3 linked regions of the Homo sapiens genome follow. The protein of the gene in region 1 purifies or fractionates together with the protein of each later gene. This does not show direct contact. Each region holds a gene or a part of one and is shown in the gene's direction. Other genes may lie near its edges. The genes, in order: LCP2, ICOS and HAVCR2.

Region 1 (3,652 bases):
CCTGCAACTGGGGGATGTAAAGGCAGCTTCTGCTGAAACCCACCCTCCACCCCTAGTGCACTGGGTACAATTTGGGACGCTTGATCTAAGCTCTAATTACTAATCTATCACCCTTTCCAGCTCTGTAATATCCAGGGCCACTCTGCTATTGAAGGCAAAAGTGAAAGGCCCTAGTTATTTTTCCTTCCTTCCTTCCTTCCTTTCTTCCTTCCTTCCTTCCTTCCTTCCTGCCTTCTTTCCTTCCTTTCTTCCTTCCTCCCTTCCCTTGTCCTCCCCTCTCCCCTTCCCTTGTCCTCCCCTCTCCCCTTCCCTCTTTTCCCTTCCCTTTCCTTCCCTGTCTTCTTTCTTCTCCCTCTCTTTCTTTTCTTCCTTCCTTCCCTCTCTCCATCTCTCTTTCTTTCTCTCTTTCTTTCTCTCTTTCTTTCTCTCTTTCTTTCTTTCTTTCTTTCTTTCTTTCTTTCTTTCTTTCTTTCTTTTCTTTCTTTCTTTCTTCTTTCTCTCTCTTCTTTCTTTACTTCTTTGCCATTTTTGTTTTCCACTGAAAAGGTTAGATCCTTATCTGGTAGAAGCTATGCTTCTAGAAGTTATAAAAAGAAGAGAAAAGGAGCTTGAGACTTGTGTCAGTTGGGAAGGCATGTGACCCCATGTTGCAGAAACCTGACCACAGTGGCCTAACCAAATAAAGGTCAGTCTGTTTCAAGTAATAAATGTATAGGCGGGTGCCAGGGGATGGTGAAAGAAGACATCAAGAACCCAGGCTTCATCTAACCGATGGAAAAAGCCTGTGGCTTCTGTCCTAACAGTTGTCAGTTGGCTACTCCACCTTTAGGCATCATATCTCCATGGCAGGCAGGGAGACGGGGAGAAAGGCAAAGAGGAGAAGGTGTATGGTGAATGGTAAATGCATGCTCCCTTTTTTCCAGGGAAGTAGTAACTTTTCCAGAAGCTCCATCCAGCAGACTTTGGTTATATCTTACTGTCCACAACAGAGTCATGTGACCTCCACCATCTGCAAGGGAGCCTGGAGAGTTAAATATTTTGAACAAGCACATTTACTGCCCTGAATGAAACCCAGGACCTGTCAGTAGGAAAACAAAGGGAGAGTGGGTATTGGGTAGGCAAGCAGCCATGTCTGCCACATTGCCTCTCCCACCAGGGCCCAGTTTGTGGCTTTCCTCTTTCTGTACCCCTCTTCTCAACACCCACAGCATATAATCATACTCCCACAAAGCCATAAATCTTAACTCCAAAATCATCATGCAAATAACCCAGAGTTTACTGGAGGCTTTTGGAAAAGGTGGAGGAGGGGGTTACATCACATAGCAAAACTCTCCAAAAATTCTGTTTCAACATCTCTCATCTTTCCTCACAGTTCTTGTCCCCGTTCTGAATGTCTTCCTCTTTCCTGACACCCTGCTCCTCTGTGTCTCCAGCCAGGCTCATGTCCACCTCCTCCTCCACAATCTTCCTGAAATTCCCTCAGCTTACGCCCTCGTCTCAGCAGAGCAGAAGCTGGTGGCCAGCTGCTCAGTGCTCAGCCGCCACCCCTCTGGCAGCCCTTAGGAAGGCTTCAACTCCTCACACCACACTCAAAACATGAGTCTTGGTACCTCCCTGAGTGGGAGTAGTTCAGAAGCAGGGAGATGCTGCTCAGTGATGAAAAAAAAAAAGAGAAAGAAAAGAAAAGAAAAGACAGGAAAGGAAAGGAAAGGAAAGAAAGAAAGAAGGAAAGAAAGAAAGAAAGAGAGAGAGAGAGAAAGAAAGAAAGAAAGAAAGAAAGAAAGAAAGAAAGAAAGAAAGAAAGAAAGAAAAAGAAAGAAAGAAAGAAAGAAAGAAAAGGAGTAGTTAAGAAGCTTAACCAAAAGCCCGATGCCCTCAGGACTTCTGGCTGACTCCCTTCACCAGCCCCACCCTGCCGCAGGTGGTCTGATCAGCGTCCAGATCAGAAACCATGCCTGTGAGCTGGATCAGATGGATCCAGTGAACACATTGCTAAGATGCCCTAGCCCCAGCCTCTGTGCCAGCTGATCTCAAAGAAGAGTGCCCAGATCTTTCCAGTGGTCAGAAAACCTGACAGGCAGCTCCCAGAACGGAAAAGAAGCAAAAACACTAAACTCTAAGACTCACCCAGACCCCTGCTGCTTCCCCACCAGGGGTAGTAATTCCTCATCTTACTCCTCCATTTCTCAGTCACACACTGTGCCAGGCACTGTGCCAAAACACATTACATACATCATCTCACTCAGTCCTCACAATCCTGATAGGTGGGTATCATTATTATTATTATGGTCCCCATTTTACAGATAAGGAAACTGAGGCTCAGAGAGGCAAAGTGCATGCCCTAAATGACACAGCTGCTAAGTGAATGAACCAAAATTCAAACCCAGCCCATCTGATTCCAGAGCTCCCACCCTAACTACCCAGCCCTCTGGCCTTAACTAGAATGGTGGTGGAGCCCTTTGTTGGCTCATCATTGGTTCTATGGAAAGCATGCCCAGTCTCTTTTCTGCTCCCAATTCTGACATGCTCTCCTCTCCTCCTCCCTTCCAGATGCCTCCTTTCACCTTTCCCCCCATAATCCTCTCCAACATAGGCCACAGGGGCCGTCAAAAGGATCAGACGTGGTAGGATGGAGGTTTGCAGGAAGAAAATAGACTGTGGATGTCACAGAGTGGAATTCCAGCCCCAGCTCATCCCCCACAAGTGGAAATCCCCTTGATATCCCTGAGCCTCGGCTTTCTCTCTTTCAAAATGGGAATGCTGGTAACTCCTGCATCACAGAGTTGATGTGAGGATTCACTAAAGCATTAAGAGGTGGAGGCCCAGAGTTAGTTCTTGACAAATATGAGTTTCTTTCTCCCCTCCCTTCTCAGTTCCCTCAAGAAAGCCTTTTCATGGCATCCCCATATCTTGAGAATTCTACCAACAACCCTGGTGAAAGAGGTTCTCTGGGATGTGATGTTGGTAAAAGAGGCACAGACTCCTCCAGGCTGGCTTCTCTGCAGCTGACCTTGTGGAGACTGAGAGGGCCTGAGGTCTGGGGTGTAGGGAAGAGGTCCTAACATGGCCAAATGCAGCCCACACAACGAGTCGTTTGGTTTCACAGATTTAGCTCTCACAGTGTTTAAGTCAAAATTATTTGCCAACATTTGGAACTCAGAGCATTTCACATAAAACCCAGACTTAAGGATTCCCTTTGTAAAAGCAGATCCAGCAACAGCAGGCCCACAGGCTTTTAGGCAAAACATCTAGAGGCTGCCTACTTGGGGAGGGTGGGTGGGCAGGGCGGTTTCTCCTCTGTTTGCCACAGTCCCCACCACTCCCTATATTGTTTCACGTATCACTCTTCCCCTCCTGCTCAGAGCCCTTTCTGTGGGTTGTAACCTGCCTGCCATATGTGTCTTCATTTCAGAACCTGACAGAAAATGACATCCAGAAGTTCCCCAAGCTCCGGGTGCCGTAAGTACTCCTCCAACTCTATGGGTGATCTGGGAGCAGAGGTGGGAATGGGGAGTAGTGTGAGTGGGGGCTGGGTCAGTTCTATGTCATTGTCGGCTTGAAATAAGAAAGCAAGTAGGAAGGATGAGGGCAAGGGCAGGATGTGGGGAACAGAAGTTACATGAAGAGCTGGAAAACAGAAGTCACAGATCCA
Region 2 (3,652 bases), on another chromosome or scaffold:
GACTGACCTTGGAGCCCCTCTTAGCCTCTCCACGACTGAGTAAATGTCATCTCCTGACAGCACCCCCTTCCAGAGTGTTCTTGTTAGATTTAACAAAAATCCCAGTTGTCAATTTTTTCTTTTGATAGATGAATTCAGGCCATTCCCAGTCAGCATAAGCCTCTACTTGATTTTATTTCTATGTTTATTTACTACTTATTTTTCTTTGTTGTATCCTCTTTTTCTCTTTTATTTTTGTTGGTGTGATGAAATTTCTTTTGACTCTCCTCTTTGCCTCCGGTTAATTTGGAAGGTCGACTACAGTTCTTAATTTACTAAGTAATTGACATGTTCAAAGAATCTTAATTGAATGTCTACTTGTTTATCATTGTATGAAAATAATGAAAATGCCTTTGTCTGATGTGCCTAGTCCCCATCCCCTGCACTGATATGAGAACTTAAGAATGTTCTTCCTTTCCCACTCTCACACTTCCCCCAGACAGTGCACCCTGCTCCATACGTGGGTTTTGTGGAAATAATTTAAAACTTACAGTTGCAGATCATTGCTAGGTTTCCTCTTACAGTATTTCTCTTCTGTTTCAAGAATCCTTTCTTAACACTTACATCACATACGTTCAATGACAACATCATTCTGGACATCTGCTCCTGTCTTGTGATCTCTGTTCTAATCTAATGATCAGAAGACTTCTCTTATTTTCGTTAAATACCCCCAACTCTCTGAATTCCAGTACAGGTAAGGGTGTCTTCCTTTTACCTTGATGAGTGACTGATATCTTTCCTGGGAATAGGAGTCCTGGATGGCAGCCTTTCTTCTTAGTGGTTGCAGATATTCCTCCACTGTCTGCTGGCTTCTAGGGTTGTGGGTGAAGAGTTTGATGGTAGTCTAACTCTCATTCCTTTGTAAAAAAAAAAAAAACTCTAGAATTTCATAATCTTGAAAGCTATTTACTTCAGTATTGGAATTCAGGAATTCCTCCAGGATATGTGTAACTCTCTCCCTCTGTTTCTCTTTCTGTGTGTTTCTATTAATTTTTTTTTTGAGGCGGAGTCTCACTCTGTCGCCCAGGCTGGAGTGCAGTGGCGCAATCTCGGCTTACTGCAACCTCCACCTCCCGGGTTGAAGCGATTCTCCTGCCTCAGCCTCCCAAGTAGGTGAGACTACAGGCACCCGCCACCACGCCTGGCTAATTTTTTTGTATTTTTCGTAGAGACGGGGTTTCACCGTGTTAGCCAGGATGGTCTCAATTTCCTGACCTCGTGATCCGCCCACCTCCGCCTCCGCCTCCGCCTCCCAAAGTGCTGGGATTACAGGCGTGAGCCACCGCGCCCCGCTGTTCTATTAATTTATTATTATTTTTTTTAAGACTGGGTGAAAGTTTTCAATCTCTAGACTCAAGCTTTATTCTTCATTTCAGTCATTTTTTTCCTAGTATTTGTTTAATCATACCTTATGCTGTTTTTCCCCACTCTTTCTAGAAATGTCTCTTATTCTTATGTAAGATCTTGAGTCCCTTATTTTTTCATCATTTGTGAACAAAATGGCTTTCACAACTTGCTGTTGCTTGTTAACCACAACTCCTTCAGATGAAATGGATATTTCAGTTTTAAGTTACTAGTAGCATATTCCCATTTCTTGGTAGAAACAAAATGCAGGCATGTAGGGGGGACTGAAATTCTTATATTTACTCACTGTAAGATTCATAGCATTATTTGGCTTAAAAAAATTCATCCCAGTATTCACAGTTGTAAACAGCAAAATCTACAACATATACTGCTTCCCTACTCTAAGAATATTGAGTTTTATATGCAAAATGACTTACTGGGCTTTGCAAATTTTTAAAAATGAGTTTTAAAATCATTTGTAGCTTGCAATAACTGAAGAAAAGATCACAATTTCTCTGTAAATGGCATCTCAGTACTACTGCTGTTCTAATAAACTAGGTCTGTCAAATGGCACTTTTTGGTCATTCAAAGTGAAAAAAACATGGCATTTGAAACCTTATAAAAATTCACAATTATATTTTGGAAAGTGGAACTTAAGTATGTAGGGGATATGTCACACAAATTGAAAGTGTTAGTCAAGAAATGATTTTTTTTTTCAATAGTTTGGCCTGTAAGGTTGACCAAAACAGGTAAAGATTTGCAAGTTTAGAGAGTCAGAAACTGGGGATATGAACTTCCTTCTGGTTCATGTATAACATAATGATGCTTGTATCTACTTTGCTTGAGGAAAAAAAAGAAACACGTTGTCCCCAAATAGGGTGATAGACCAGGAGTTTCCATCCAGTTGACCACGAGTGTTGTTAGGATCTGTTTATTTGAGTCATGTTGACACAGACACAGCACTTTCAATAAGCAATTAATGATCATTTAAAGGTAACTTTTTTGAATTTGATAAATAGATTTTTTTTACAGCCTGTATTTGTGTTCTTCTAGGACTTTGCAACAAAGAATCTGTACATGCAAAAACAACAATAACAACAACAAGCTGTCTACTGCACTCACAGTTAAAGTTCTGTTTACTTTGCACTATCTAGGACTAATGCAAAAATCTCATAGATGTGCCTATTTGCACTTATTTAATTATGATGAAATTTACTTCTATATGTGAATCCATTTCTGTACATTTCTACAGGCAGATAAGTGATGGGAAAATCATTAAGAATTTAGACTTCATCAGAGAAGAACCCAGGTACAATGACAGCCCAGCTTAATACATGATGGCTGATGAATGAAAATGTCTAGGGAAATGAGTGTGTTATGTACAATGTAATTTCATATCTAAGTCACTTTAAAATAATTTTTTGATATATAATAACCCTTTCAATCACAGAACACATATGTGGCACCAATGTGAATACTACTTTAAGTATTAAGGTGATAATATATCCAATATACCTAGAAGGAAAATAAATACCTGAAATTCATTTTCATATCTAGCTTAATGTTAAAAGCTTCTTTTTGTTTTTTTATTTCGTAGCAAATCTCTTTAGCTCTGATGCTTTAGTTTCTGTACAATGAGAGGATTGGACTAGATTATTAGGTGAAGAGATTAAGTAAGTGTGTGTACCCTGGTGTCAAATTATCTTATTCTTTTTTCTTTGTTTTTGTTGGACTGGGTTAATTCGAAGACCTTGTCTTCAAGCTCTGAATTTCTTTCTTCTAGTTGTTCAATTCTATTGCTGAGACTTTCCAGAGCATTTCACCTTTCTAAAATTGTGTCCAAAGTTTCCTGAAATTTTTATTGTTTTTTCTTTAAGCTATCTATTTCCTTGAATATTTCTGCCTTCACTTCTTGTATCATTTTTTGCATTTCCTTGCATTGGGCTTCACCTTTCTCTGGTCCCTCCCCGATTAGCTTAATAACTAACCTCCTGAATTCTTTTTCAGGTAGATGAAGAATTTCTTCTTGGTTTGGATCCATTGCTGGTGAACTAGTGTGATTTTTTGGGGGTGTTGAAGAGCCTTGTTTTGTCATATTACCAGAGTTGGTTTTCTGGTTCCTTCTCATTTGGGTAGGTGCTGTCAGAGGGGAGGTCTAGGGCTGAAGGCTGTTCTTCAGATTTTTTTTTTGTCCCATGGAGTGTTCCCTTGATATCATACTTTCCCCTTTTCCTATGTATGTGGCTTCCAGTGAGCCAAACTGCAGTGA
Region 3 (3,652 bases), about 13 Mb from region 1:
GGTGGAATGTATAGATGGGATGAAAGGCCTAGATCAGTGGTTAGAGACCCTGACTCTCATTAGAATCACATAGAGAGTTTTTAAACAACTATAGATGCCAGGTACAGTGGCTCATGCCTATAATCCCAATACTTTGAGAGGCTGAAGCAGGAGGATCACTTGAGGTCAGGAGTTTGAGACCAGCCTGGCTGATATACTGTGGCTACCCCTATCTCTTAAAAAGCAGAAGAAAAAACCCCACTACCAAAAACCAGAGAAATCAGCATCTCTGGAGGTAGATGCTAAGCATTAGCTTTTTACAGAGTCTACCTCAGGTGATTTTACCCCAGGTGCAGCCAGCATGGTGAACTGCTGGGTTATGCATGTATGCTGGGAGGTGAACAGACTTAAGATTTCTATAACATGTACTTTGTGCCCAGATAGAGCTGAGTTTACATCTAACTCTGCCTCTTACTAGCTATATAATCCTGAGCAAGTTATTGAAACGCTGTGAGCTCCTCTTCTATAAAATATGACAATAATACCGATCATGTGGGCCATTAGAAGGATTTTATGTGATAATATTTTATTAAAAGCCTTTATAGGTTGGGCATCCCAAATCTGAAAATCTAAAACCTAAAATGCACCAAAATCTGAAATGCTCTAAAATCCAAAACTTTTTGGACACTGACATGACATTCAAAGGAAAAGCTCATTGGAACATAAGTATAGGCAGATACTAAAAAATAAAAAAATAAAAACATGGCTGGGCGTGGTGGCTCATGCCTATAATCCCAGCACTTTGGGAGGCTGAGGTGGGTGGATCACCTGAGGTCGGGAGTTCGAGACCAGTCTGACCAACATGGAGAAACCCTGTCTCTACTAAAAATACAAAATTAGCCAGGTGTGGTTGCACATGCCTGTAGTCCCAGCTACTCAGGAGTCTGAGGCAGGAGAATTGCTTGAACCCAGGAGGCGGAGGTTGCAGTGAGCCGAGATTATGCCATTGCACTCCAGCCTGGGCAACAAGAGCAAAACTCCGTTTCAAAAAAAAAAAAAAAATTCAAAATCTAAAACATTTCTGATCTCAAGCATTTCAGATAAGGAGTCTTCAACCTGTAATTATGGCCATTTGTGTGGCTGTTAGTTCCGCTATTAATAATCAGAATGTAACAATGATGACTGCATCTTACCTTTGTCAAACATTTGAAGTGTGTGATACACTCTCAACGTAGGTATCCAGGCAGGTTTGGAAGCTGAGGGTGTATTTCTCTTTCTTAATTGTCTTTCGCATTTTTTTCTTGCTGCCCCTTTGATTCCCTGAAATAAGCTTTCTGCTCTCAGATAATTTTCATCCTTATGTTGTTTCTGACATTAGCCAAGGTCACCCCTGCACCGACTCGGCAGAGAGACTTCACTGCAGCCTTTCCAAGGATGCTTACCACCAGGGGACATGGCCCAGGTAACTATGCATGGGGCAGAGGAGGGAATCTTTAGCTGGCTCTGAATTCAGAGGATTTTGAATGTGGGAAAAAAAGATGAGAAAACAGTGTGAGAGTGGAGGCATGGATATCTCCGTGCACCTGAAATAGTGTTTGAAAAGAGGGAAGTGGTGGAGACACACCTGTGCTGGGAAAAAGATGGTCTGGCTTAGGATTATTTTACTTAAATTTTAACTGGAAAAAAGTTAATAAACTTTATAGTCTTTAATTTTACTTAAATATTAACTAAATTGAATGAAATGCTCATTACTTTGTCCACATTTTCTGACTGACCCTGGACTGGTGATGTTTGGTCATGAACTGGTGTCAGTCTGTGTTTGGGAACTGACACATTGGATTAGGTGATTTCTAGGATGCCTTCTAGCTAGAATAAAGCCCATCACCTTCCCTGGATTCCAGCCACAGAAAGAATAGTTAAATTCTTCATGTAATTCAGCAAGGACGTACTCAGGGTGCTCCAGAAGAGAACACTGGGCATAAAGCAGAAGTCAAGTCACATTGATCATGAAGGTTAATTTTAAGGTATTTCTTGTCAGTGTCCTGGTCTCTTCTAAACTCTCTGGAGCTCCATTTTTTTTTTCTTCTGTAAAATGAGGTTAATAGGTGAGTCCCACCTCATAATGTCATAAATCTCATAAATCACACCTTATGGGCTTTAAATAAGAAAATGTCTAAAACGTTTATCCCAATGTCTGACCACAATTTGTACATGTTAGCTGTTGTCGTTAATATTATAAGATCAGGAGGCACAGTGAGATTGTGGTTAAAGTACTTCAGTGACAGGTGGAATGGGTTCTAATTTCAGCTGTTCTTGATAGCTCTGTGACCTCAGTCAAGTTGCTCAAATTCTCTGAAGCTCAGTTTGCTCATCTCTACAATGAGGATAATTCCAGTGCCCATGTCATGAGGTGGTTGTAATGTATAAACATGATAATGTATGTAAAATGCTCAGCATAGTACCTGGCCCATAAAAAGCACTCAACTGTTTATTATTACTATAGTTACTGGTTTTAGCTCTCCAAAGTTTCAGTCTTTGGTTAGTCTTTAGTGATTGGTAGCCAACATCTTTTATGCAATTAGAGAGGAAACTAAATATGGTGGGGACAGAAAATAATAAAGTTATACCAGATACTTATTGTATGCCATTGTTATATTTTAAAGAATCTTACAACCATAGTGCTAGAAGGGACTTCAAGGGTCATTTAGTCTCACTTTCCCATCCTGTGCTTCAGTACTTTTTTTTTTTTTTTTAATTGAGACGGAGTCTTGCTCTGTCACCCAGACTAGAGTGCAGTGGCGCAATCTCGGCTCACTGCAAGTTCCGCCTCCTGGGTTCACGCCATTCTCCTGCCTCAGCCTCCCAAGTAGCTGGGACTACAGGCGCCCACCATCAAGCCCAGCTAATTTTTTTCTTTTTTGTATTTTTAGTAGAGACAGAGTTTCACCGTGTTAGCCAGGATGGTCTCCATCTCCTGACCTTGTGATCCTCCCGCCTCGGCCTCCCAAAGTGCTGGGATTACACGCGTGAGCCACCGCGCCCGGCCAGTACTTTTTACTACATCACCACTGAATGGGCATTTGCTGTAGACGGAGTTCACTCCCTGTCGAGGTGGTGCATTTCCTTATACTTGTCTCTACCACAGACAGAAGTCTTCTTTCCTTTAGTTTTTCTTTCCTTTTTTTTTTTTTTTGAGACGGAGTCTCACTCTCTCACCCAGGCTGGAGTGCAATGACACGATCTTGGCTCACTGCAAACTCTGCCTCCCAGGTTCATGCCATTCTCCTGCCTCAGCCTCCCAAGTAGCTGGGATTACAGACGCGCGCCACCACGCCCCGCTAATTTTTGTATTTTTATTAGAGACGGGGTTTCACCATGGTGGCCATGCTGGTCTCGAACTCCTAACCTCAGGTGATCCCTCTGCCTCGGCCTCCCAAAGCGCTGGGATTACAGGTGTAAGCCACCACGCCCAGCCTTCCCTTTAGTTTTTGTTTGTTAGTTCCTTCCCTCTAGGGCAACAAAAATGGGAATATAGGAATAATACCTCGAACCTCTGAGCTTCTCAAGGGCCTGACTGAGAAAAAATATTGAAACAACCAAAAATAGGTCAGTAGCTCCTAAATAGGAAAATAAAATAAAAAATTGAAATGAATGAATATTTAATGGTTTGTCT

The links.
Region 2: the proteins of LCP2 (region 1) and ICOS purify together in Homo sapiens (co-immunoprecipitation; one study listed by IntAct). This does not show direct contact.
Region 3: the proteins of LCP2 (region 1) and HAVCR2 purify together in Homo sapiens (co-immunoprecipitation; one study listed by IntAct). This does not show direct contact.

What each region holds. Positions count from the first base shown.
Region 1 is NC_000005.10:170,287,777-170,291,428, reverse strand, and holds part of LCP2 (lymphocyte cytosolic protein 2), read left to right. Parts: intron 1-3,412; coding exon 3,413-3,459; intron 3,460-3,652. UniProt on the Homo sapiens protein: Adapter protein primarily involved in signaling pathways within T-cells, as well as other immune cells such as platelets, mast cells, and natural killer (NK) cells.
Region 2 is NC_000002.12:203,939,763-203,943,414, forward strand, and holds part of ICOS (inducible T-cell costimulator precursor), read left to right. Parts: exon of another isoform or gene 1-672; coding exon of another isoform or gene 673-733; intron 734-754; exon of another isoform or gene 755-996; intron 997-3,652. UniProt on the Homo sapiens protein: Stimulatory receptor expressed in activated or antigen-experienced T-cells that plays an important role in the immune response.
Region 3 is NC_000005.10:157,102,455-157,106,106, reverse strand, and holds part of HAVCR2 (hepatitis A virus cellular receptor 2 precursor), read left to right. Parts: intron 1-1,357; coding exon 1,358-1,441; intron 1,442-3,652. UniProt on the Homo sapiens protein: Cell surface receptor implicated in modulating innate and adaptive immune responses. Generally accepted to have an inhibiting function.